Linked DNA regions of Homo sapiens. The protein of the gene in region 7 purifies or fractionates together with the protein of the main gene of each other region. This does not show direct contact. Each region holds a gene or a part of one and is shown on either strand. Other genes may lie near its edges.

Region 1 (3,500 bases), on a different chromosome or scaffold from region 7:
ATGGAGTTTACATTTCTTTTTTCCATTCTCCTTGTTGCTTTGAAGTGGTTTCAGAGACAAGAAGGGGAGAATGTCAAGTATACTCTGCTATATTCAATCTGAAATTTCTCAGTAGGAACAACTTTTATTAAAATCAGAACCACTGTCACCTTATGATTTTCAAAGCCCCATCATGTGTAACTTCTCCCCTATATATGCTGTACACATGCTAGTCATTAGCAACTTAAGCTTAAAAAGGTTAAATGGCTTACCCAAGCTCTCAAAGCTAGTTACAACCCAGGTGTCTTGATTCCTGGTCCGGCACTCTTATCACACTGCACATCCATGCAATGGCCACTGAACTCAACTAACCTTCCTTCTAAATATACGTATTACCAGAAGCTAATCTCTAAGAATTATACTTAGAAAAGAGCAGGAAACCACATAACTGACCAATATCAGGAATGAGGAAGAAAGAAGACCAAGAAACTGGGATTAGTTCCCATTACCTGGCTTAGTATCTGTCACTCCTTCCATAAGGACCAGTCCTACTGGTCGCTGACAAGCGATGCTGCAGAAGCGGAAACGTAGCAGGAAGTCTCGGCCATACTTGCGTCTCTCTGTAAACCAGGAAAAGACATATAGTGAAAGAAAGACGATGAAGCCACATGCTGAGACCTCCTTAGTACCAAGCAACTTCCAGCATAGGTACACAGAGGAAGCATTCAGAAGACAAGGAGATTTTCCAAAGGCTATGATTTAAAGTTGTCCATTTCATTGGACAGCCATTGGGAGGATAGTGAGAAAACAGAGGAATCTGCTAAGAGAAATGAGGGATTACACTTTTTCTTGTCGTTGAGACACCAGCTTTCTCCCAAAATGGGCATGAAGACACAGCCAACCAAGAATGTGACATGTGCTCACCTGATCTCTTGGGGTGACAGGAGGTGACATACTGACAGCAATCAGTGATGCCCAGGGAGCTGGGCCACAGTGGGGCCTGCAGCTTCCTCTGGTAAAGCTGATGGGAGAAGTCTTCCTGTCCAGATACCTGGGTGGAAAAAGAAGGGTGGGAATAAGGAAACCAAGATAGAAAAAGGAAGTAACAGCCCATGTTTTGGGACATGTGGACAAATACAAACACATACAATCACACACTACGTACATGGTATAAACAAGCATATAAGTCTCAGGGGCAGGTTAAAAATAAGGACCAAATTAAAACCATTACTTTTTCACTGGCAACACTGAAATGTCCATGAAACAGGAGGAGGGGTAAGAGACTGAATCAAGGGGAATCGAATAGTATGAACATGTGGTTCCCTAAATTTTACCTCTGAAAAATCAATACAATTCTCCTCCACAGGGAATATCAACTCTCAGGGGCTTTAAGTTGCAATGGTTAAAGGTTTATCCTCATCTTTGGATCTTCTGGATCAAGGTCTAATATCCTGAACCTATTACTGGGTAACCACAGGGTCAAACCAAATGGGAAAGCACCAAAGCACTTTACCGTATCTACGTCACCATCCTCGGTCAAAGCCAATGAGCAGCCTGGGAACGGACAAAACGTAGTAGGGGAAACATTCGGCAACATCAGTCATCTGCACATCTCCAACGTGTGTAGCAAAAGTCCCTTTATGCCATTTAACAACAACAAATATTTGAAAGCCAAAAGACACTAGCTAGGTGCTGGGGATAGAGCAGCAATAGACAGAATCCCCTTGCCCTGTAAGGGCATAAATTTTCAATATGTCATCAGAAGTAAAACAGATCTGCAATTCAATGGCCACTTAATAGCTGTGTGACTTTTGGCAAGTTAGTTAACTCTCTTGGGTTCAATATCTCCTACTATAAAATGGGATAGGCCAGGCGCAGTGGCTCACGCCTGTAATCCTAGCACTTTGGGAGGCTGAGGTAGGTGGATCACCTGAGTTCAGGAGTTCGAGACCAGCCTGGCCAACATGGCGAAACCCCGTCTCTACTAAACATACAAAAATCAGCCGAGCATGGTGGCACACACCTGTAATCCCAGCTACTTGGGAGGCTGAGGCAGGAGAATCACATGAACCCAGGAGGCAGAGGTTGCAGTGAGCCGAGATCGTGCCATTGCACTCCAGCCTGGGCAACAGAGCGAGACTCTGTCTCAAAAAATAAATAAATAAATAAATAAATAAATAAATAAATAAATAAAATGGGATAATAATACCATGTACAATTAAGAATCTTAATAATCACTACCGGTTACTGACTTTGAGCCAGATACTGGAAAACACTTTACACGCATTATTTTATTTAATCCACCCAAAAAAACACCTCTGAGGCAGGTCCCATTATATCCCCCATCGTATAGATGAGGCAAATGGGGTTCAAAAAAGTTAAGTAATTTGCTCAAGGTGGCAGAGCACGGATCTGAACTCAGGACTGTCTGGCTTCAAAGCAAGTGCTCTCATTCACTATGCCTAACAGTGCCTGTCATGTGGCAGGCAGTCAGTAAATTCTTTTCCTCGTTCCCTGAGTTCCTTGATTACAGCTCCTTTAGGGCAAGATCATGCCTTTCTCTGCACACATCTGGCTCATTTACATAAAATCCCATGTGCGCAACAGTAATACAATCGTTTTGTGTCCTTCCACCATTGTGCCTTGCCAAAAGTTAGTCAATAAATTGAAACAGTAGGGGCAAAATAGAGGAACAAGGAGATTAAGTGACATAAAGAAATCAGCACAAGCTGATAAAACTACGAGGTGTTTGTCATCAACACTCAACAGTTAGAAGGAATGAGATCCATATGCAAATTGCTGAGTGAAAAAAAACAAGCTACAAATGAAACATACAGTAGTGTATCATGTTTATAAAACACACATGGTAGATTACATATTGGCTGTTATAAGCAATGACAGCACAGTATTTGAGGGTAAGAGCTCTGCAGCCAGACCACCTGGTTACAAATCCTGGCTCCACCACTAACTACCCGCATAACCTAGGGCAAATTACTTCACTTTTCTGAGCTTTAGTTTCCTCATTTATAAAATGGAAGCCATGATGGAAACTGTGAAAACTAATTAGTTAATGAGTATAAAGTGCTTAAAATAGCACATGGCACACACTTAAGTGCTTAACAAATGTAAACACTGATTACAATATCATAGGAACATAGATATCACTGTAAATGCAAAGAAAACAAGCTAAAAGACTACCACCAAACTTAGAACGGTCATTATGTTACTCTAAGAGAATAGAATAGGGAATGTGGGTAATAAAACAGGCCTGTGTCTTACTGTATAATGTTTAAGTTCCTTCAAGTATGTACTTACGTATTACTTGTGAATTAAAAATATTAATGATAAAAACTGAAAAAAATTCCAATATGCCGAAGTACTCAAGAATTCTTAACTTCCAGGCTTGGGTACAAGCTATTCAACATAACAAGAAAAAGGAGGAGCAGGCCAGAGCAGGTGTACTGAGGTCCCTGCCACAGAAGAAGCACTGATGCTAACGCCTGAATCTCTCTTAGACCATG
Region 2 (3,500 bases), on a different chromosome or scaffold from region 7:
ACAAAAGCTTGGGTCTAGCTGTTCAGGTTCAGGAGACAGTGGGAGGCGAAGTCATGCATGTGGTTATAGCAATTCAAGTGGGTGTGGAAGGCCACAAAATGCTTCAAGTTCTTGTCAGTCACATAGATTTGGAGGGCAAGGAAATCAATTTAGCTATATTCAGTCAGGCTGTCAGTCAGGAATTAAGGGAGGACAAGGCCATGGCTGTGTCTCAGGAGGTCAGCCCTCTGGATGTGGTCAACCTGAGTCTAACCCCTGTAGTCAGTCCTATAGTCAGAGAGGATATGGAGCTAGAGAAAATGGTCAACCACAGAACTGTGGAGGACAATGGAGAACAGGCTCAAGTCAGTCCTCTTGCTGTGGACAATATGGGTCTGGAGGTAGCCAGTCTTGTAGTAATGGTCAACATGAATATGGTTCCTGTGGCCGCTTTTCAAACTCTTCTAGTTCAAATGAATTTTCCAAATGTGATCAATATGGGTCTGGTTCAAGTCAGTCTACTAGCTTTGAACAACATGGAACAGGCTTGAGTCAGTCCTCTGGGTTCGAACAACATGTATGTGGCTCAGGTCAAACTTGTGGCCAGCATGAGTCTACATCAAGTCAATCCTTGGGCTATGACCAGCATGGGTCTAGCTCAGGTAAGACATCTGGCTTTGGACAACATGGGTCTGGCTCAGGTCAGTCCTCTGGCTTTGGACAATGTGGGTCAGGCTCAGGTCAGTCCTCTGGCTTTGGACAGCATGGGTCTGTCTCAGGACAATCCTCTGGTTTTGGACAGCATGGGTCTGTCTCAGGACAATCCTCTGGTTTTGGACAACATGAGTCTAGATCACGTCAGTCTAGCTATGGCCAACATGGTTCTGGCTCAAGTCAATCATCTGGCTATGGCCAATATGGGTCTAGAGAGACATCTGGCTTTGGACAACATGGGTTGGGCTCAGGTCAATCCACTGGCTTTGGCCAATATGGATCGGGCTCAGGTCAGTCCTCTGGCTTTGGACAACATGGGTCTGGCTCAGGACAATCCTCTGGCTTTGGACAACATGAGTCTAGATCAGGTCAGTCTAGTTATGGCCAACACAGTTCTGGCTCAAGTCAGTCATCTGGCTATGGCCAACATGGGTCTAGACAGACATCTGGCTTTGGACAACATGGGTCAGGCTCAAGTCAATCCACTGGCTTTGGCCAATATGGATCAGGCTCAGGTCAGTCCTCTGGCTTTGGACAACATGTTTCTGGCTCAGGACAATCCTCTGGTTTTGGACAACATGAGTCTAGATCAGGTCATTCTAGCTATGGCCAACATGGTTTTGGCTCAAGTCAATCATCTGGCTATGGTCAACATGGGTCAAGTTCAGGACAGACATCTGGATTTGGACAACACGAGTTAAGCTCAGGTCAGTCTTCCAGCTTTGGCCAACATGGATCAGGCTCAGGTCAGTCCTCTGGCTTTGGACAACATGGGTCTGGCTCAGGACAATCCTCTGGCTTTGGACAACATGAGTCTAGATCAGGTCAGTCTAGCTATGGCCAACACAGTTCTGGCTCAAGTCAGTCATCTGGCTATGGCCAACATGGGTCTAGACAGACATCTGGCTTTGGACAACATGGGTCAGGCTCAAGTCAATCCACTGGCTTTGGCCAATATGGATCAGGCTCAGGTCAGTCCGCTGGCTTTGGACAACATGGGTCTGGCTCAGGACAATCCTCTGGCTTTGGACAGCATGAGTCTAGATCACATCAGTCCAGCTATGGCCAACATGGTTCTGGCTCAAGTCAATCATCTGGCTATGGTCAACATGGGTCAAGTTCGGGACAGACATCTGGCTTTGGACAACACAGGTCAAGCTCAGGTCAATACTCTGGCTTTGGACAACATGGATCAGGCTCAGGTCAGTCCAGTGGCTTTGGACAACATGGGACTGGCTCAGGACAATACTCTGGTTTTGGACAACATGAGTCTAGATCACATCAGTCTAGCTATGGCCAACATGGTTCTGGCTCAAGTCAGTCATCTGGCTATGGTCAACATGGGTCAAGTTCAGGACAGACTTTTGGATTTGGACAACACAGGTCAGGCTCAGGTCAATCCTCTGGCTTTGGCCAACATGGATCAGGCTCAGGTCAGTCCTCTGGCTTTGGACAACATGAGTCAGGCTCAGGAAAATCCTCTGGCTTTGGACAGCATGAGTCTAGATCAAGTCAGTCTAATTATGGCCAACATGGTTCTGGCTCAAGTCAGTCATCTGGCTATGGTCAACATGGGTCTAGTTCAGGACAGACAACTGGCTTTGGACAACACAGGTCAAGCTCAGGCCAATACTCAGGCTTTGGACAACATGGATCAGGCTCAGATCAGTCCTCTGGCTTTGGACAACATGGGACTGGTTCAGGACAATCCTCTGGTTTTGGACAATATGAGTCTAGATCACGTCAGTCTAGCTATGGCCAACATGGTTCTGGCTCAAGTCAATCATCTGGCTATGGTCAACATGGGTCAAATTCAGGACAGACATCTGGATTTGGACAACACAGGCCAGGCTCAGGTCAGTCCTCTGGCTTTGGCCAATATGGATCGGGCTCAGGTCAGTCTTCTGGCTTTGGACAACATGGGTCAGGCACAGGTAAATCCTCTGGCTTTGCACAGCATGAGTACAGATCAGGTCAGTCTAGCTATGGCCAACATGGTACTGGCTCCAGTCAATCATCTGGCTGTGGCCAACATGAGTCTGGCTCAGGTCCAACCACAAGTTTTGGACAGCATGTGTCTGGCTCAGACAATTTCTCTAGTTCTGGACAACATATATCTGACTCAGGTCAGTCCACTGGATTTGGCCAATATGGTTCAGGCTCAGGTCAATCAACTGGCTTGGGCCAGGGTGAATCTCAACAAGTAGAGTCAGGATCCACAGTTCATGGGAGACAGGAAACTACTCATGGTCAGACAATAAATACCACTAGACATAGCCAGTCTGGTCAAGGACAATCCACACAGACAGGGTCCAGGGTAACTAGAAGACGAAGATCTAGCCAAAGTGAGAACAGTGACAGTGAAGTGCACTCAAAGGTCTCACACAGACATTCAGAACACATTCACACACAAGCTGGATCTCACTACCCAAAGTCAGGATCCACAGTTCGCAGAAGACAAGGAACTACTCATGGACAGAGAGGAGATACCACTAGACATGGCCATTCTGGTCATGGACAGTCTACACAGACAGGTTCCAGAACATCTGGAAGACAGAGATTTAGCCACAGTGATGCCACTGACAGTGAAGTGCACTCAGGGGTCTCACATAGACCACACTCACAAGAACAAACTCACAGCCAAGCTGGATCTCAACATGGAGAGTCAGAATCCACAGTTCATGAGAGACATGAAACTACTTATGGACAGACAGGAGAGGCCACTGGACATGGCCACTCTGGTCATGGACAGTCCACACAGAGAGGGTCCAGGACAACTGGAAGAAGGGGATCTGGCCATAGTGAGT
Region 3 (3,500 bases), about 72 Mb from region 7:
CTTTCTTGACTCTTGAGGCTAGATTAGATGCCCAACCAGTATATATACACACACACATATAATATATATATATACACATATATACATGTATATATTATACGTATATACATATATATGTCTATATATACATATATGTATATATAATACATTTGTGTGTGTGTACACACATACTATTGCAACACTCATGACATGGTGGTGTTTTCATAATTAGCGTGTAGATAGTCAATATATGTGGGCAGAAACCCATGTCTGTCTTATTTACCGTTAGTATTTGCATTAGCACAGCACGTGTCTACATAGTATGTGCTTTACCGATACAAGTGAAGAATGATAATCAACAAAGCAAACAATCTTTGATAGTGAGATGAGAAGCTATAATAAAGCTTATCTGTCTGTTGCTCCTGATTGCCTTTTCTCTGTTCATCTAGAGTAAGAGTAAATAGAAGAGGCTTATTCAACAATATTCTGTATTTATAGAAAGACATTTTAGTAATACTCTTTCCTCTTTTAAAAATTACAATAACTATTGTTAATGACTAATCTTAATTTATATATACAACTTTTAAACAGGTCAAAGAAAGTATCTGTTCCATCAACTGTGATATCCAGAGTGATTGGAAGAGGAGGCTGTAATATCAATGCTATTCGGGAGTTTACTGGTGCACACATAGATATTGATAAACAGAAAGACAAGACTGGAGACCGGATAATCACTATAAGGCAAAACTTTGTCTCTTACATTTTCTTCCTTTATTTTATTGCACTATAGCTTAATGAAATACAGCCATATGAGTTTTCAGTGGAACTTTGTGTTACATAGTATACTTTTTAAAATGGGAATTTTATTAGTGTTTGAGAAGATAAATTTTATAGTTTTCTTTTTTCCTAGGTAATACACTTTTGTGAAGTGTTTCAGAGACTTTTATAGGAATTTGTATGCATGTGTAGCAAAGGTTTAAATAAATAATTTCTGTACATAAACTGTTTATATGACATTCTTAAAAATTTGTTCTGAGACTTTTAGGGAGCGCATTTCTAACATTTTAAGCAGTGGGTTTTTGTCTTTCTCAAATAACCTTTGAGATTTGTTATTCTGAGATTGTGTCTTTAGAATTTGAGTTCTTGGGCTGGGCACGGTGGCTCACGCCTGTAATCCCAGCACTTTGGGAGGCTGAGGCGGGCGGATCACCTGAGGTCAGGAGTTCGAGACCAGCCTCAACATGGGGAAACCCCGTCTCTACTAAAAATACAAAATTAGCCGGGCATAGTGGTGCATGCTTGTAATCTCAGCTACTCGGGAGGCTGAGGCAGGAGAATTGCTTGAACCTGGGAGGCAGAGGTTGCGGTGAGCCGAGATCGAGCCATTGGACTCCAGCCTGGGCAACAAGAGTGAAACTCCCTCAAAAAAAAAAAAAAAAAAAAGAATTTGAGTTCAGATTTGAATCTGAAGTGAAGATATAACTTATCTTGAATAACTCGTCGAATATGTCTATGCCTGAATATTCTTAAAATAAAAGTGATGTTCTAAGAAATCATAAGAATGTAGGAAGCTATATTTAATTACTTTAAAGTAAATTCATGTTCCTTTGAAAAAGAGTTTTATATTTTTTACATGGCAGATATAAGTTTGTATGAGGCAGATGCCCCTTTGCATTATATAGGAGAGCTAATAGTTACATCATACCTCAAAAATAAGAAAGCAAGTAGCCATCTCTATTTTATTCATCGTCCTCTCCTTCTGACTGGTTTTCCCCTGGGTATTTGGGTAGTCACAGCCTATCTTATCTAGAAAAGAGGGAACCAGATACCCTTTATTGGTAATTGCTCCCTTGAGTTTCCATAAATATCAAATATTTTCCTGAAGATCCAGCACTAAGGTTTTATATGGCTATTTTTGGCACTATCAGGATTCCTGCATCATTTTAAGACATCTTCCCAGAGGAGTTACAATAATTATCCTATTAATAGACAAACTACTAATGAATTTTTAGTAGACGGAGTCATCCCAGATACCAAGATTTAAAATAAAATACTGTTTTCTTACTCAGTTGTATTATTTTCCTTGTTTACTTCTATTATTTTTAGTGTTGATTAACTGTTTCAATATTTTTAGGATTAAATGTTTCAATAACATTGTGGATTACATAGGCTTTTATGTGCAGTGGTTTTTCTAACTGTAGTGTATTTTACAGTAGGAAAATGGTTTCTTAGTCTAAGGAAACAATAGTGAAATGTATTTTTGAAAAATAAGTCATTTACTATTCTTCTGAAAAATAAAAGTAGTAATTCAGGACAGTTTATTGCTTTGTTTGTAGAATACCTCAGGAATGGTAAGAAAATTGCTGCCCAGCTTTTGTTATCTGTCCTTTGTTTGTATGTGTGTATGTATATACACACAAAACTGTGTGTGTGTTTGTGTACATAAATACATATTAAAAACACTTTACATACTCAAAAGTAGGGAAAATTCTACCTAATTTTTTTTTCTCAATTTATAGGGGTGGCACTGAATCAACAAGACAAGCAACTCAATTGATTAATGCTTTGATCAAGGATCCAGACAAAGAAATTGATGAACTTATTCCAAAGAATCGTTTGAAAAGCTCCTCAGCAAATTCCAAAATAGGGTCATCAGCACCTACCACCACTGCTGCTAACACTTCCTTAATGGGAATTAAAATGACAACTGTAGCTCTGTCATCAACATCTCAAACTGCCACAGCACTCACTGTGCCTGCAATTTCTTCTGCATCCACTCACAAAACCATTAAGAACCCAGTGAATAATGTGAGGCCTGGTTTTCCAGTTTCTCTTCCATTAGCATATCCTCCTCCACAGTTTGCACATGCTTTGCTTGCTGCTCAGACTTTCCAGCAGATCCGTCCACCAAGGTTGCCCATGACCCACTTTGGAGGTACTTTTCCACCAGCTCAATCCACTTGGGGTCCGTTTCCTGTCAGGCCTTTGAGCCCTGCCAGAGCTACTAACTCGCCTAAGCCTCACATGGTGCCTCGCCATAGCAATCAGAATAGCAGTGGTTCTCAGGTGAATTCAGCAGGTTCTTTAACTTCAAGCCCAACAACTACAACCAGTTCATCAGCTTCAACGGTGCCTGGTACATCTACAAATGGCAGTCCAAGTTCACCTTCTGTCCGAAGGCAGCTTTTTGTCACAGTTGTGAAGACATCCAATGCCACCACAACAACAGTCACAACCACGGCAAGCAACAACAACACTGCACCCACAAATGCCACATATCCTATGCCTACTGCCAAAGAACACTATCCAGTATCATCCCCATCTTCCCCATCACCACCAGCCCAGCCAGGAGGGGTTTCTAGAAACAGCCCTTTGGATTGTGGATCAGCATCTCCAAATAAAGTGGCATCTTCCTCCGAACAGGAAGCAGGTAGTCCACCAGTAGTAGAAACAACAAACACTAGACCTCCAAACAGCAGCAGTTCTTCTGGGAGTTCATCAGCTCATTCTAATCAGCAACA
Region 4 (3,500 bases), on a different chromosome or scaffold from region 7:
CTTCTGGATATTGAAATTAGGGTTGTTATTTTTCAGCTAACCTGTATCTGTAAGTTTTCTAGAAGAAAAAGGGGATATCAGCAATTCTCCAGCAATTTTCCTTCTCTCTAATGCATCATCTATTTTCTCTCCTCTACATCAGTTGGTTCCATCAGCAAACAAGATAATACAGTTTCTCCTACCTTAAGGAAAAATTCCTTGACATAACATTCCTCTCCAAGTGCTGCTCCATTTCTCTGCTCTTCTATACTTAAAAATATACTAATGGCCAGGCGCGGTGGCCCACGCCTGTAAATCCCAGCATTTTGGGAGGCCGAGGTGGGCAGATCATGAGGTCAGGAGATGGAGACCATCCCGGCTAACACGGTGAAACCCCGTCTCTACTAAAAATACAAAAAAAATTAGCTGGGCGTGGTGGAGGGCGCCTGTAGTCCCAGCTACTCGGGAGGCTGAGGCAGGAGAATGGCGTGAACCCGGGAGGCGGAGCTTGCAGTGAGTCGAGATCACGCCACTGCACTCCAGCCTGGGCGACAGAGCAAGACTCTGTCTCAAAAAAAAAAAAAAATACTAACCACAATTCTTCTTCTTCCTTCTCTCTTGAGCCCACTCATGAGGCTTTCAGCCCCACCAGTGCACCTAAACTGCTTGTCACGGTCACCAAAGTCCACCCAGTGACAAATCCAAAACTCCCTTCTCAGTAATCATCTTACTTGACCTATTTGTATTATTTGACACAATTACTCCAGGAATGTCCCAGGACTGACTGACTCTGACCTTTTTCTACACTCACTTCCTCAGTGTCTCATCCAATCCCATGATACCTGATGACTCCCAAATTTATACTTCTAGCCTGACTCCTCCTCTAAGCTCCACACTCTGATATCCAACTGCCTATTTAGTATCTCCACATGGATGCCTAATCGCATCTCAAACTTAACATGCACAAGCTCTTGGTCCCTTTCCCCCTTTAAAAAAAAATTCCTCTTTGCACAATATTCTTCATTTTAGTTGACAGCTATTCCAAACTTCGAGCTGTGTAGGCAAAAAACTTTGTATCCACCCTTGATATCTTTTCTCCCACACACATATCACATCCAAACTATCAGCAAATCTCATTGGCTCTACCTTTCAAATATATCCATAACTCACCCACTTCTCTCCACTACCACCAATCGGATCACCTTCTCTTGCCTGAATTACTGTAATAGTCTCCTTGCTGGTCCTTGCCTCAAATCTGCAGTCCACTCCTAGTTCAAGAGGCAAAATGTCCCTTTAAAGGGTAAACAATCATTTCACCCCTCTGCTCAAAACTCTCCAAATGGCATCCCTTCTCACTCAGAGTAAAATCAAAGACCTTAACAATGATTTTACAAGGCCCTACACAATCAGGTCTCCGCCTTCCACTCTGCCCCTTATCTCTCTGCCCTCATATTTTACTAATTAATTTCCCCCACATCCTTCTTGACCACATTCTCAACCTAGGCTTTAAAAACTTGCAGAAAACCCATTCCAAGAATAAAGTTGGGTGATGCCTAGCTCTGCCAACCTATGATTTTGGAACCACCCTACTATGGTTTCAATGTGTCCTCTCCAAAATTCAGATGTTCAAACTTAATGGCCAATATGATAGCATTAAGAGGTGGGGCCTTTAAGATTTAGTCATGAGGGCTCCTCCCTTCATGAATGAGATTAAGGCCCTTGCAAAAGAGGCTTCACAGTCTTCCATTCTCTTGCCCTTCCACCTTCTGCCCAGTAAGGACACAGCATTACTCCCCTCCAGAGGATGCGGCAACAACAGACCATCTTAGAAGCAAAGAGCAGCCCTCACCAGGAAACTAAACCTGCCTGTGACTCAATCTTGGACTTCCTGGCCTCCAAAAATGTGAGAAATAAAATTATATTCTTTAGAAATTACCCAGTCTCAGGTTTTTTGTTATAGCAGCATAAAACAAACTGAGACAGGGCCTTATTCATTCTTCTCTCATTTGTCCAGCTACCATGCCAACTCACTCAGCTGAATTAAAGACAGTGGACTTCTAATTAGGCTGGTTCCTATCAGCAATATAAATAATCAGTCCATCAATAAACAGATATTGGCTATAAACTGTTCACTTTTGTAGATCTATTAAGTCTTTCCAGCTGATAGGCTAAATAAGCCTTCTCTAAATACACGAACCAACGTTATTCATAATAATATGAAATAGAGGAAAATCATTTCCTTCTTGATTATTCTACTTTAAGCTCTTCATTTTAAATTTTGAATTTGGACTGCAGGCAATTTGTTTTTGTCAGTAGTTCATTTATATACACAAGTGAAATACTGTCAAATTATTTCACTGTAATACATTTGTCATTCTATGAGCATTTATAACTTTTCATGCAGCAAAAAAGAACATTTCAACCAACCATCTGTCTGCCTTTTTCATGTGCTTTAATCATTCAGCTCTGGTAATGTTGCTCCAAATACTAAATTTTTTTTAAATAACATAAAATCTCACATCTTATGATTTAATGGTAAGGCTTGAAATTTAATTTTCAGATTTTTCTCCTCAAATTTTACCAGATCAGTGATTTTAAAAATAACATATCCTACTGTCAAGAAAGAATATTTTCTTGAATATTTATTAAGACAAAATGTAGAAGTCAGAACCAACTCTCCTTCAAGGAGATATGCAAGCAAAGCAAAATAAGATAAAAGGTTTTATAATCTGTTGGAAAGTAAGACTCTGTTTACAGGCAGTATTTCATCAAATTTCTATTCAATGTAGTAAAATCTTATTTAATTTGAAATATATTTCAAGAATTAAATCATAAATGGAACCCTACTGCACCACTGAAATGACAATCCTTAATTTGAATAGTTGGCCCTTTGTAAAACTTACGATCTTATTTTTATGAAGACAAAAACAACTAGTTCAGCTGCTAGGAATGCACTGCAGATGCTAGTATACAGTTTCTTCTTTTATTTTTAGTCACCTTGGAACAAATGCTGAAATTTAGTGAAAAATCAATAAAATACTAAAATTTCCTAATAACTTAATGTACCCCTTGTAAAAAAAAAAAAAAAAAAGTAGGATCCAGTTTACATATGTAGCAAGCAAATATGTTAACAGCTCTAGTACCAGATCTAATGACCATAAATTTCAATTAGCTAAACATAATAAACAAGACAGATCAGTTATCAAACCTGGAATTATTAGAACACAAGAGATTTAAATCTTCATAACTAAAGATGATCAGATGTATAACAGTATGCTGACAAAATCATGACTGAAGCATATTTTCATAGCAGCAACCCTGAACTCCTGAGCACAAGAGAAAGGAATTCACAATGAGGAAGGAGCCCGTGCCTCTTCATGTCATGCTTATGACTCAGGGCACCAACACTTCAACGTCTCAAACTAAAATGTCCTTAACATTTCAAAATTCCAGCATTTCCATTTTCTTCAGTAAATCACTGTTTACACAAACAAAGGCTTATAACAAATAATTTTCAATAG
Region 5 (3,500 bases), on a different chromosome or scaffold from region 7:
GATTAAAGAGGAAAGAAAGAAATGACAGTAATTAGGATTACATGCCAATCACAGCACTTTAATCACAGCAACACAAATCCCTGGACTTCATTTTTTTGTGATAAGTTCTGATTGAAATTAGAAAATATTAAAGTTAGAAAAATTAATGAGCACATTACCAACAGAACCAAATTTAATTTGACAATCTAATGGCCTCAATTTAGTCTCATTTTTTGAAACAAAGACATAAAAAGAAGTAAAAACACATAACCAAGTACAAAGGATTTAATCAGAAAATTATCCAATGGTGATGTATTTGAATTCAATTATGGTTACCCCCTACACAGATGTGAACTCATAGAGGAACTGAAATCCTTCCTACAAAGCTACACAGTGACTGTGACAATGGTGATGCACACCAGGCTACTGTTCAGAATGAGTTTATGGCCAGTAAACTGTGGTCAGGAAACTTACTGCAAAGTGGGGACTCATCTGTCCCATTGGGGCAGTCAAAGATGCCATCACACACTACACTCAGATTCACACAGATGTTATGGCCAAGACACTGCCATTGCCAACTAGGACAGCGAAAGGGCTGAGTAGGGCAGTCCTTCTCATCACTCATATCCCCGCAGTCATTGTCCCGATCACAGAGCCATGCCCTGTGGATGCAGTTTCCGTTGTCACAGTGGAAATATGATGAAGGGCAAGTCTTGGGGACACAGGCATTGTGCTCATCAGATCCATAGAGGCAGTCTGGATGCCCATCACATTCCCAGAAGTTCGGGATGCAGATACCATCTTCTTGGCACTGAAATTCATCTGAGTGGCACATACCAGGAGGCCTGGTTGCTAGAAGGAAAACATGGGGTAAATCGGCTTGTGAATGTAATTTGTGATCCCTTTTATAGTCTAGACTCAGAGGAAATGATTTTGGATCCAATAGTAGGTTTATAGTAACAACTATGACCAAATTAATATTTAAGGCTAAATGATATAGAGTCTTCTCCCACACTCTAGTACATAGAAATATTTCTTTGTGGCAGCTAGTGGCTCTGACAACAAACGAAGTACAGAACGCACAACTGCTGACTAGCAGATGAGTACCTGTGTCAAAAGAACATCCTGTTTCCTTTTCCTGTGTTTTTAATGTACTTCCAATTGCAGATTCAATAATAAAGTTTATCTATCTTTCTATGAAAGAATCACCAGAACATTACAATAGAGCTTAAATAGCTATGATTACTTTGAACTTCATGTGTTTCATATCATGTTTGGGTGTTATTATTTTCCCTCAGATGAACTATACCTAATGAAACCATCACACACTAACTAAAGATGATGGTAAATACTCAGTTCTTTGCAAACTTTCCACTATTCATCAAGCAATCCTGGAGAGATACGTAAGAACTGCTTCCCTATTTGACAAGGGTAAACCAAAACTCTCTACCAGGGATCTCACAAGGCAACAGCAAGCCAGCGGCAATTGACAGTTTAACCTCAGCTCATCACAGAATTTTATGTTTTTAATGTGAAACAGGAAAATTAGTGATTAGTAATTTCTAGATGTTGTGCAAACTATAAAGTATATAAGCATTTTATTTAACTTTTCTTTTTAATCCATGGCTTTACACACTACCTTTCTGACGCAGGAGGAGAATTCATGAAAACTTACTTTTTTGGTCTAAAACACCATTGTTCAAACAAATGATCAACTCACTGATGAGTTTTTGCAAGTCTAAAATCCATTTAAAACAAAAAGTGGGCAAATAACAAATCATGTGAGTATAGGTTTCCAGTCTGTGAAGATTATAGATCCATCAGAATTATACTGTATGAAGTCCTACTTGAATCCTCCAACTAGAAGAAATTTCTTTTCTCTGAACCTCCATAGAATTTTATCTGTGCCATTTCTAAGACCCTTGTAACTGTCTATCTTGCTTAATTGTCTCTTGCCTTCTATAATCTCCATAGATAACATCTTAGCAGATATTCAACACATAATAGCACAAAGAATGAATTCATCAGAGTCAATACTAAACACAGCTCCATACCATTTCTACACCATGATATGACTTCTCTACTGAAACTTAAAAGAAACCAGTAAAATATCTTTATATGGAGTAGAGCCTCAAAAGTTTAAACCTACTAAAGTGGGAAGTCCTAAGAAAAACTAAAAGTGAAAACAAAAATATCTAAGAAATATTTAGCCCATCTAAGAGACTATTTGAAGTGTCCATTTATACAACCACTTGATTTGTTAATTACACATTATATGGCAATGTCTACTCAATTTTACTGTATGTTCAATACCACATTCCTTTGAGGATACTTTCCCCCAGTTTGTCTGAGTTAGGGAAAATGTGTGGCAATATCAATATCAATACTGGCAAAAATGAAATGACCCCTTTGTCTGAAACATTCTGGGTATGTGTTACTTACGACAGCCTGCTTCATCCGAGTTGTCACTGCAATCAAAAACACCATCACAACGATTTGTGACGCCAATACATTTATCCCCACTGGCACACTTGAATTGAGAAGCAGTACAGTTTAATACTAAGAATGAAAGAGAAAAGCATTAGAAATTAGCTCAGGGCTAAAATGACTAAACACTGAGATTTTTCTTTTTTGTTGTTATACTTTAAGTTCTGGAGTACATATGCAGAACATGCAGGTTTGTTACATAGGTATACACGTGCCATGGTGGTTTGCTGCACCCATCAACCCATCATCTACATTAGGTATTTCTCCTAATGCCATCCCTTCTCTAGCTCCCCACCCCCCAACAGGCCCCGGTGTGTGATGTTCCCCTCCCTGTGTCCATGTGTTAACACTGAGATTTTTCTAAATAAACATTGTGAATAAAAAAGAAGGCAATGCACTTACCACAACCAACCTCATCAGATCCATCAACACAATCCTTGTCACCATCACAGACAAACGATAGGTCAATACATCGATGATTGGGGCAATTAAACTGACTAGGTTGGCATGTCTCTGTCGAATCTAATGTCATCCGAAAACAAAACCAACAAGTTTATTTCCTGTGCAACAAGTACCAGAGCCAAACTAAAAATGGCTAAATAGCTACAGAAGTTATCTCAATTGTACATGGGTTCAAAATTCTTTTGAATCAGCCACACTATCAAAGTCAGCTAAGCAAAAGAACTCAAAACTAGGATAGGTTTTAGAATTGAGAATAAAAAGATTACAGGGCAGAGTCAGAAACTGTGATTACACCTTGGAAAATAGACCACATTCAGAAAGTGAGCATCATGTGCTTGGACTTGGACTACATTTCATGAATACTATGAAGTCCATGACTCTAGACCAAAGCCAAGCAATGGAGCCCAATCAGGCAACAAAACCAGCATGACCCACATGCCTAGTAGCAACAGTGTGTAGACAGACCCCCAAAACTGGATTTAAAAGTCTGAACAGAACAATTCTAAAAACCAGGGTCCTACCTTACTGTTAAGACCATAGCCTTGGAGTCGGATGCAGTGGCTGGCCCCACC
Region 6 (3,500 bases), on a different chromosome or scaffold from region 7:
TCAGCCTCCCAAAGTGCTGGGATTACAGACATGAGCCACCATGCCTGGCCTTTTCTTGTTTTCTCTTTTCCCTCCCTCCCACTCTTTGGAATCACAGTGGACTCATGGATTAATTTTTTCTGATTCAATTTGTTAGGATAAGTAATAGTCATTATTCTTTTTGATGTTGACATTTTTCAAATTTGGCCTGGGAGAGCCCGTTCAAGCCAGCTCCTGTCCTGTTGACATAACCATCTAGCACTTGCCATGGTCTCACTTTTTAACCTCTATTGTTTCAAGATTTGGAATCACCCATTTCTTTAAAACTCCTGGTTTCTTCTAGCAGTTATATTGGACTTTGGAAAGCCTACCTGCTGCTGGAGTATTATTCCTTCTGGGCCTTTTTCAGTGGACAGAGCTAGGAAATATATGCATCTGTGTATAAAATAAAGTTCATTATATCATGAATTCATATATATCAGGCTTCAGTAAATGAAAGTAAAAAGTACATTAGAAATCCTGAGTTTATGTAGTATTTCCAGTCCAAATTTAGCAGTATAGAGCTTTTGTCTTCACTTCTGTGTTTATGTTTAATCTCTCATCATTTACAGGAAAAATTTTGGCTCCAATTACATTAGTGTATTGTTTCCTTTATAATATACAGTAAGTTCTCACTTAACATGAAATGATGGATAATGAAACCAGTTTTTTTCCTCATCAACTTTATAATGAAAGGATGTTGTAAAAATGAGAACACTTGGACACAGGGTGGGGAACATCACACACCGGGGCCTGTCGTCGGGTGGGGGAGTGGGGAGGGATAGCATTAGGAGATATACCTAATGTGCCGGGTGCGGTGGCTCAGGAGTTCGAGGCTAGCCTGGCCAACATGGTGGTGCAAACCTGTAATCCCAGCTACTCGGGAGGCTGAGGCAGGAGAATCGCTTGAACCTGGGAGGTGGAGGTTGCGGTGAGCTGAGATCATGCCATTGCACTCCAGCCTGGGCTACAAGAGCGAAACTCCGTCTTAAAACAAAAACAAAAACAAAAACAAAAACAAAAAAAACGAGTTAATGGGTGCAGCACACTAACATGGCACATGTATACATATGTAACAAACCTGCACGTTGTGCACATGTACCCTAGAACTTAAAGTATAATATAAATAAACAATAAAATAAAAAAGAAAGGATGTGGAACAAAATGTTTATTGAGGACCTGGTGTGCGTTGTTTCTCTTAAAGTCAGTTTCCAAAAACCTGTCGATGATTTTAAGTGAGGGCACACTGTATAAAAAGTAAGAAAATTAGACAATCAGTATTACTATTAACAGTAAACAAATTGAGCAGAATTTGAGATTTATTTGCTTTTTTATGCTTAAATATTTCCCAGTGTGAAGCTTTAAAGTTATTTGAAATATTTGTGTTACCAATTTGGCATACAATTAATTTTTTTTTCTATTTATATTACTGGGATTTACTCTACATTTTTTGAGACAGGGTTTCACTCTGTCACCCAGGCTAGAGTGCAGTGGCACAGTCATGACTCACTGCAGCCTTGACTTCTTGGGATCAAGCAAATCCTCTCATATCAGCCTTCTGAGTAGCCAGGACTACAGGTGCGCACCACCATGCCCGGGTAATTTTTTTGTGAAGGTGAGGTTTCGCTGTGTTGCCCAGGCTCCTCTCAAAACTCCTGGGCTCAATCGATCCTCCTGCCTTGGCCTCCCAAAGTGCTGAGATTTTAGGCATGAGCCACCATGCCTGGCCTACATTTTTAATTTGTTTTATTTTGAATGTAAAACGTTTATATGGTTCAAACATTAAAACTATATTTTAAAAAATATATACTCCAAATCTTGATCTCATCTTCTCCTTATACCCTATTCATAGCTACTTCCTATAGGTAACCATTTTCATTAGTTTCTGGATTTTTTTTTCCCTGTGTTTCTTTTCTAAAAATGTGTTAACATTTTATGTCTACTCTTATTATCCATCCTGCTGCATGGAAGTATTTTATATACATTTTTCTGTACTTTTTAAACTTAAGAATTGATTTATAGGAAATATTTTTTCTTAGTTCAGAGAGGTTGTCATTCGTTTTCCAGCTCCATAGTACTCAGTAGTGACTGTAATACAGTTCAAACCAGTCTTCTGTGGGTGGACAGTTGGGATCCTGCAGTGAATAACTGTATACTGTTTCATGTTTAAGGAGCTGTGTCTCTAGGACACATTCCTAGAAGTGGGATTGTTGGATCAAGGGTAAATACATACATAATTTTATTAGATATTAACAGATTCCCCTCCTTAGGAATTGTCATATTTGGCCTTCCAGCAGCAGTATATGTGTGTGTGTCTGTCCACACCCTCAGTCAAGATTTGTTGTCAGCTTTTGGGTTTTTTCCAGTCTGATAGTGAGATACCATGATATCTCGTGGTAGCTTTTATTTTTATCTTATGAGTGAAAATGAGCATTTTTGCTTATATTTCTCAGTGCCATTTGCAGATTTCTCTGAACTGCCGTTCAGAGGTTTTACTTACTAAGGAACTATTAGTGACCATTTTCTAACAGTGAGTACTCTTTACCCTATCATAAAATTGTCACTTGTACTTTTGGTGCCAAATTCTTCTATATCTTTATTGGGTGAGTTATATTTATGATCTTTAAAAAAATTATATTTGAATAAATATTGTGCACTAGCTATTCAAAATAAGGATTTAGATGCAAAGGTTTTTTTTTTTTTTTTTTTTTGAGACAGAGTCTTGCTCTGTCACCCAGGCTGGAGTGCAGCGGCACAATCTCGGCTCACCGCAACCTCCGTCTCCCAGGCTCAAGTGATTCCCCTGCCTCAGCCTGCCCTTTTAGCTAGGTTTACAGGTGTGTGCCACCATGCCCAGCTAATTTTTTTGTATTTTTATTAGAGACAGGGTTTCACCATGTTGGCTAAGCTGGTCTCGAACTCCTGACCTCACATGACCCGCCCACCTCAGCCTCCCAAAGTGCTGGGATTACAGGCGTGAGCCACTGTGCCCAGCCTGTAAAGATTTTTTGTTGGTATAAAATCCAGAATGGTACCAGAATGCCAATTTTATTCCTTTTTAAGAAATAGCTCTAATTAAAGGTGCAGCACTTCAAACGTGATTTATACAGTTGTTTTTATAGGAAAATGGAAATATATTGTAGGGATAGGTAGCAGGACACTAATAGTGAGTCCCACTCATGACTGTAAGTAGTGACTTTGGGAGGTATCTTAAATACTGATGTCATTAAGTAATTAACTTGAATTACTTGTATTTTACTTTTAGTTATTAAGCTGACTGCTATTATAGTAAATATGTGTCTTAAACTTAGAGTGAAATGGAAACTGCTTAGAAGCTTAGCTGTGTAGGAGTTAAAGTGCAGGGGAACAGATGGGAACATTTAATTTATAGAAATAATTCTGGTGGAGTTCTAGGGCTGTGCCTATTTGTTTTAGTTGTTGTGAAGAAGCAAGCCATCTTGTATACTTAAAGAATGATGTCA
Region 7 (2,886 bases):
GCAGCACCACAAACTTCTGGCCGCCCACATCGATGGTGGAGTTGTGGCGGCCCTCGGCGCCGTACTCCACGCGCTTCAGCCACTGGATCACCGGCTTCACGTCGCTGCGCACCTTGCACTGGAAGGACGTGGTCCCCCCGAAGTCCACCGTCGTGTTCACGGGGTGCGTGCCTGTGAGCACGGGCTTGGAACGGGTCCGCTCTGTGGGAACGTGGCACGCGGGCATGGCTCCTGGGCCGCGCCGGACTCTACCCCGCCAGCACCCTGGGCCCACCAGCACCCCCAGCCCACCACCCCCAAGCCCTGCCAGTGCCCCCGCCCACCAGCGCCCCCGCCCACCAGCACCCCCGCCCGCCAGCGCCCCCGCCCACCAGCACCCCCCGCCCGCCAGCGCCCGGGGCCACACTCACGGATCACATCCACCTTGTAGGTGGCGTTGATGGCGCCCGCGCGGTTCGACACGCGGCAGGTGTATTTGCCGCTGTCCTCCGGCCGCAGGTTCTTCAGGCTCAGTGTCCACTTCTTCTTCCTGGGCTCAGCGGCCTCTGGGCGCGTCAAGGCCTGGTCGTCCTTCATCCACGTGATGTCGGGCCGAGGGTGCCCGCTGGCCACGCACTTGAGCCGCACGGAGCTACCCACGGGCCGTGCGATCACCCGGCGCCTCATCTTGGAGGGCTGTGTGAAGCGCGGTCGTGCTGCGGGGTGGGGTGGCGTGGAGGTCAGAGGACGGGGATGCAGCCAAGGGGCCGGGACAGACGGACGCCCCCCACCCCCGTCACCCCCTGCTCACCCCACTGCTGGCTGGCGGGGTCCTCTTGACCCCCAGAGGAGCTGTCGGGCCCCAGGCTCTCCTTCCCTGGGCTAATGTCATCTGCAGAGAGACGGAGGTGCACAGGGAGGGCAGGTGAGGGGGGCCCTGAGGAGCTCCCCCAACTCCCCCGTGGCCTCTAGCTCCCCCAGCCCCAGCCGGGACAGCCCTGGACACCCAGGCAGGGGGCTGCGCCACACACCCACAGCCCAGAATCCCAGGGACAGCTGGGCAAGGGCCGCTGGCCCACACTGGGCGCAGGTGACCCTGATGGGCACGGGTGGGGCTGGAGGGCCGGCCCCCATTCTGGCTCCGGGGGGTCTGCAGGCCCCGGGGGAGGAGGGAGCCGGGCCCGGCCAGCAGCTGCAGTAACCCTAGCCTACATCAAGGGGCCGAGGGCTGGTGAACAGACGAGACTCTCATACCACCCGGTCATCGTCCCCTTTGAAAGGACTGTGGGGTGGGGGTGGGGGACAGCCAGTTTTCCCATTCCACACAATGCCGAGGGGCAGGGCGTGCTGTGGAATGTCCCCTCCATCCACCCTGTGACAGCCGCTCCTTCACTGAGCCCAGGACCAGGCTGTCTCAGGCCGCACCCCCAGACCCTGCTGGGGCCTGGGCCAGGCTCCTGTATTCAGAAAACGGGCACATGTACCCTAAAACTTAAAGTAGAATTAAAAAAAAAAAAGAAACGGGCCAGCCCAGCTCCCAGGAGCTCCACCCGAGGGCCCCACACCCAGGAGCCCAGCGGAGCAGGCGGGGTGCCGGGTCCCTAGGTATGGAGGGCGTGTCTCTCTGGACACCTGTCCAAGCCCAGCGCCCGGGCCCCAGGCGCAGAAGAGAACAGAAAGGCCACGCATCCCGGCGGCTCCTCTGAACTCCGAAACCCGAGCCTCAAAGTCACAGCCGACGGCCGGCACACCCTGCCAAGGCCTCGGGCCCCAGCCCTTCTGTGGGACCACTGCCTTCGGCTCCCGCCCTCCACCCTCCGCCCTCCGCTGGGAGGAAGGCTCCGAGGCTGGAGCCTGACGGGGACAGGAACGGGACAGGATACCTGGGGGATGGTGGCAGAGGTGCAGCCAGCTGAGGTGGGGCAGGGCACCGAAGGAAGGCTTTCTGCCGGGGGCTGGCTGACTCTCGGGCCCCAGGTGTGTCCCCGTCCGCCCTCCTGCACACCCCTGCCTGGCTCCAACCCAGCCCATGACCTCTGACCGCAGCAGCGACTAACCCAGCACGACGAGGGTGTAGTTGACGCTCAGGCTGCCGAAGCCGTTGGTGGCCTTGCACACGTACACGCCGGCATCCTCCCGCTCCACCTGCTTCACCTTCAGCCCCTGCGGCAGCACGCGGAAGCGGCTCCAGCCGCTGTGGATGGTGCGGCCATCCTTGGTCCACATGGTCAGCGGCGGCGGGTCCCCCTCCACTGGGCACTGCAGCCGCACAGTGCGGCCCAGCCGGGCCACCTGCCGTGGGACCACCTTGTCCGCCATCTTTGGGGGGCCTGCGGGTGGGACCGAGGAACAGTCAGCGAGGAGGGGCTTGGGGTCCGGAGCCGGGGGGGCGGTCAAAAGGGGACCCACGGCCCAGCACAGACCTCGGGCCTGAGCTCCACCTGGGTCACCTGCCCAAGATGAGCAGAGGGGCCGAGGTGCAGTGCCCCTGACCCAGGCCTCAGCTGCCCACATGCACCAAAGCCCTGAGCACTGGCCCAGCAAACACCACGTCAGCAGCCTCTCATGGCCGGGGCAGCCCCGTGGCCCCAGAGGCTGGCTCTTTGAGACACGAGAAGGGAGCAGGGTCCCCAGAGGATGCAAAACAGCTGCGCTTGGTAACTCTCGAAAACCACCAACCAAAAGGGCAGAGTCTCCTTCTGGTCATACAGGAAGCAGCCGTACACCCGAGGTCAGAGGGGACAGTGGCCCCCCAAGGACAAGGGCAGTAGGGGGATGGGGGGCCTGGTGGGTCCCAAAGAGGCCCCAGGCCCCTCACCTAATTCCCACCCAACCATCAGCCCAGGGCCCAGCCGGGCCTGGGCATGGGCCAGCGACCCCACAGCTATCCACAAGCAACCGAGCACG

Evidence for each region.
Region 1: the proteins of FGFRL1 (region 7) and ANGEL1 purify together in Homo sapiens (affinity purification with mass spectrometry; one large-scale study listed by BioGRID and IntAct). This does not show direct contact.
Region 2: the proteins of FGFRL1 (region 7) and FLG2 purify together in Homo sapiens (affinity purification with mass spectrometry; one large-scale study listed by BioGRID and IntAct). This does not show direct contact.
Region 3: the proteins of FGFRL1 (region 7) and ANKRD17 purify together in Homo sapiens (affinity purification with mass spectrometry; one large-scale study listed by BioGRID and IntAct). This does not show direct contact.
Region 4: the proteins of FGFRL1 (region 7) and AP3B1 purify together in Homo sapiens (affinity purification with mass spectrometry; one large-scale study listed by BioGRID and IntAct). This does not show direct contact.
Region 5: the proteins of FGFRL1 (region 7) and LRP2 purify together in Homo sapiens (affinity purification with mass spectrometry; one large-scale study listed by BioGRID and IntAct). This does not show direct contact.
Region 6: the proteins of FGFRL1 (region 7) and BACH1 purify together in Homo sapiens (affinity purification with mass spectrometry; one large-scale study listed by BioGRID and IntAct). This does not show direct contact.

What each region holds. Positions count from the first base shown.
Region 1 is NC_000014.9:76,802,883-76,806,382, forward strand, and holds part of ANGEL1 (protein angel homolog 1), read right to left. Parts: intron 2,121-3,500; coding exon of another isoform or gene 2,003-2,120; intron 1,534-2,002; coding exon of another isoform or gene 1,493-1,533; intron 1,031-1,492; coding exon 904-1,030; intron 600-903; coding exon 489-599; intron 1-488.
Region 2 is NC_000001.11:152,353,507-152,357,006, reverse strand, and holds part of FLG2 (filaggrin-2), read left to right. Parts: coding exon 1-3,500. UniProt on the Homo sapiens protein: Essential for normal cell-cell adhesion in the cornified cell layers. Important for proper integrity and mechanical strength of the stratum corneum of the epidermis.
Region 3 is NC_000004.12:73,091,299-73,094,798, reverse strand, and holds part of ANKRD17 (ankyrin repeat domain-containing protein 17), read left to right. Parts: intron 1-570; coding exon 571-720; intron 721-2,498; coding exon 2,499-3,500.
Region 4 is NC_000005.10:78,284,699-78,288,198, forward strand, and holds part of AP3B1 (AP-3 complex subunit beta-1), read right to left. Parts: intron 1-3,500. UniProt on the Homo sapiens protein: Subunit of non-clathrin- and clathrin-associated adaptor protein complex 3 (AP-3) that plays a role in protein sorting in the late-Golgi/trans-Golgi network (TGN) and/or endosomes.
Region 5 is NC_000002.12:169,240,535-169,244,034, forward strand, and holds part of LRP2 (low-density lipoprotein receptor-related protein 2 precursor), read right to left. Parts: intron 2,989-3,500; coding exon 2,869-2,988; intron 2,539-2,868; coding exon 2,422-2,538; intron 832-2,421; coding exon 454-831; intron 1-453. UniProt on the Homo sapiens protein: Multiligand endocytic receptor. Acts together with CUBN to mediate endocytosis of high-density lipoproteins. Mediates receptor-mediated uptake of polybasic drugs such as aprotinin, aminoglycosides and polymyxin B.
Region 6 is NC_000021.9:29,336,922-29,340,421, forward strand, and holds part of BACH1 (transcription regulator protein BACH1), read left to right. Parts: intron 1-3,500. UniProt on the Homo sapiens protein: Transcriptional regulator that acts as a repressor or activator, depending on the context. Binds to NF-E2 DNA binding sites. Plays important roles in coordinating transcription activation and repression by MAFK.
Region 7 is NC_000004.12:1,021,626-1,024,511, reverse strand, and holds part of FGFRL1 (fibroblast growth factor receptor-like 1 precursor), read right to left. Parts: intron 2,310-2,886; coding exon 2,037-2,309; intron 872-2,036; coding exon 791-871; intron 696-790; coding exon 411-695; intron 202-410; coding exon 1-201. UniProt on the Homo sapiens protein: Has a negative effect on cell proliferation.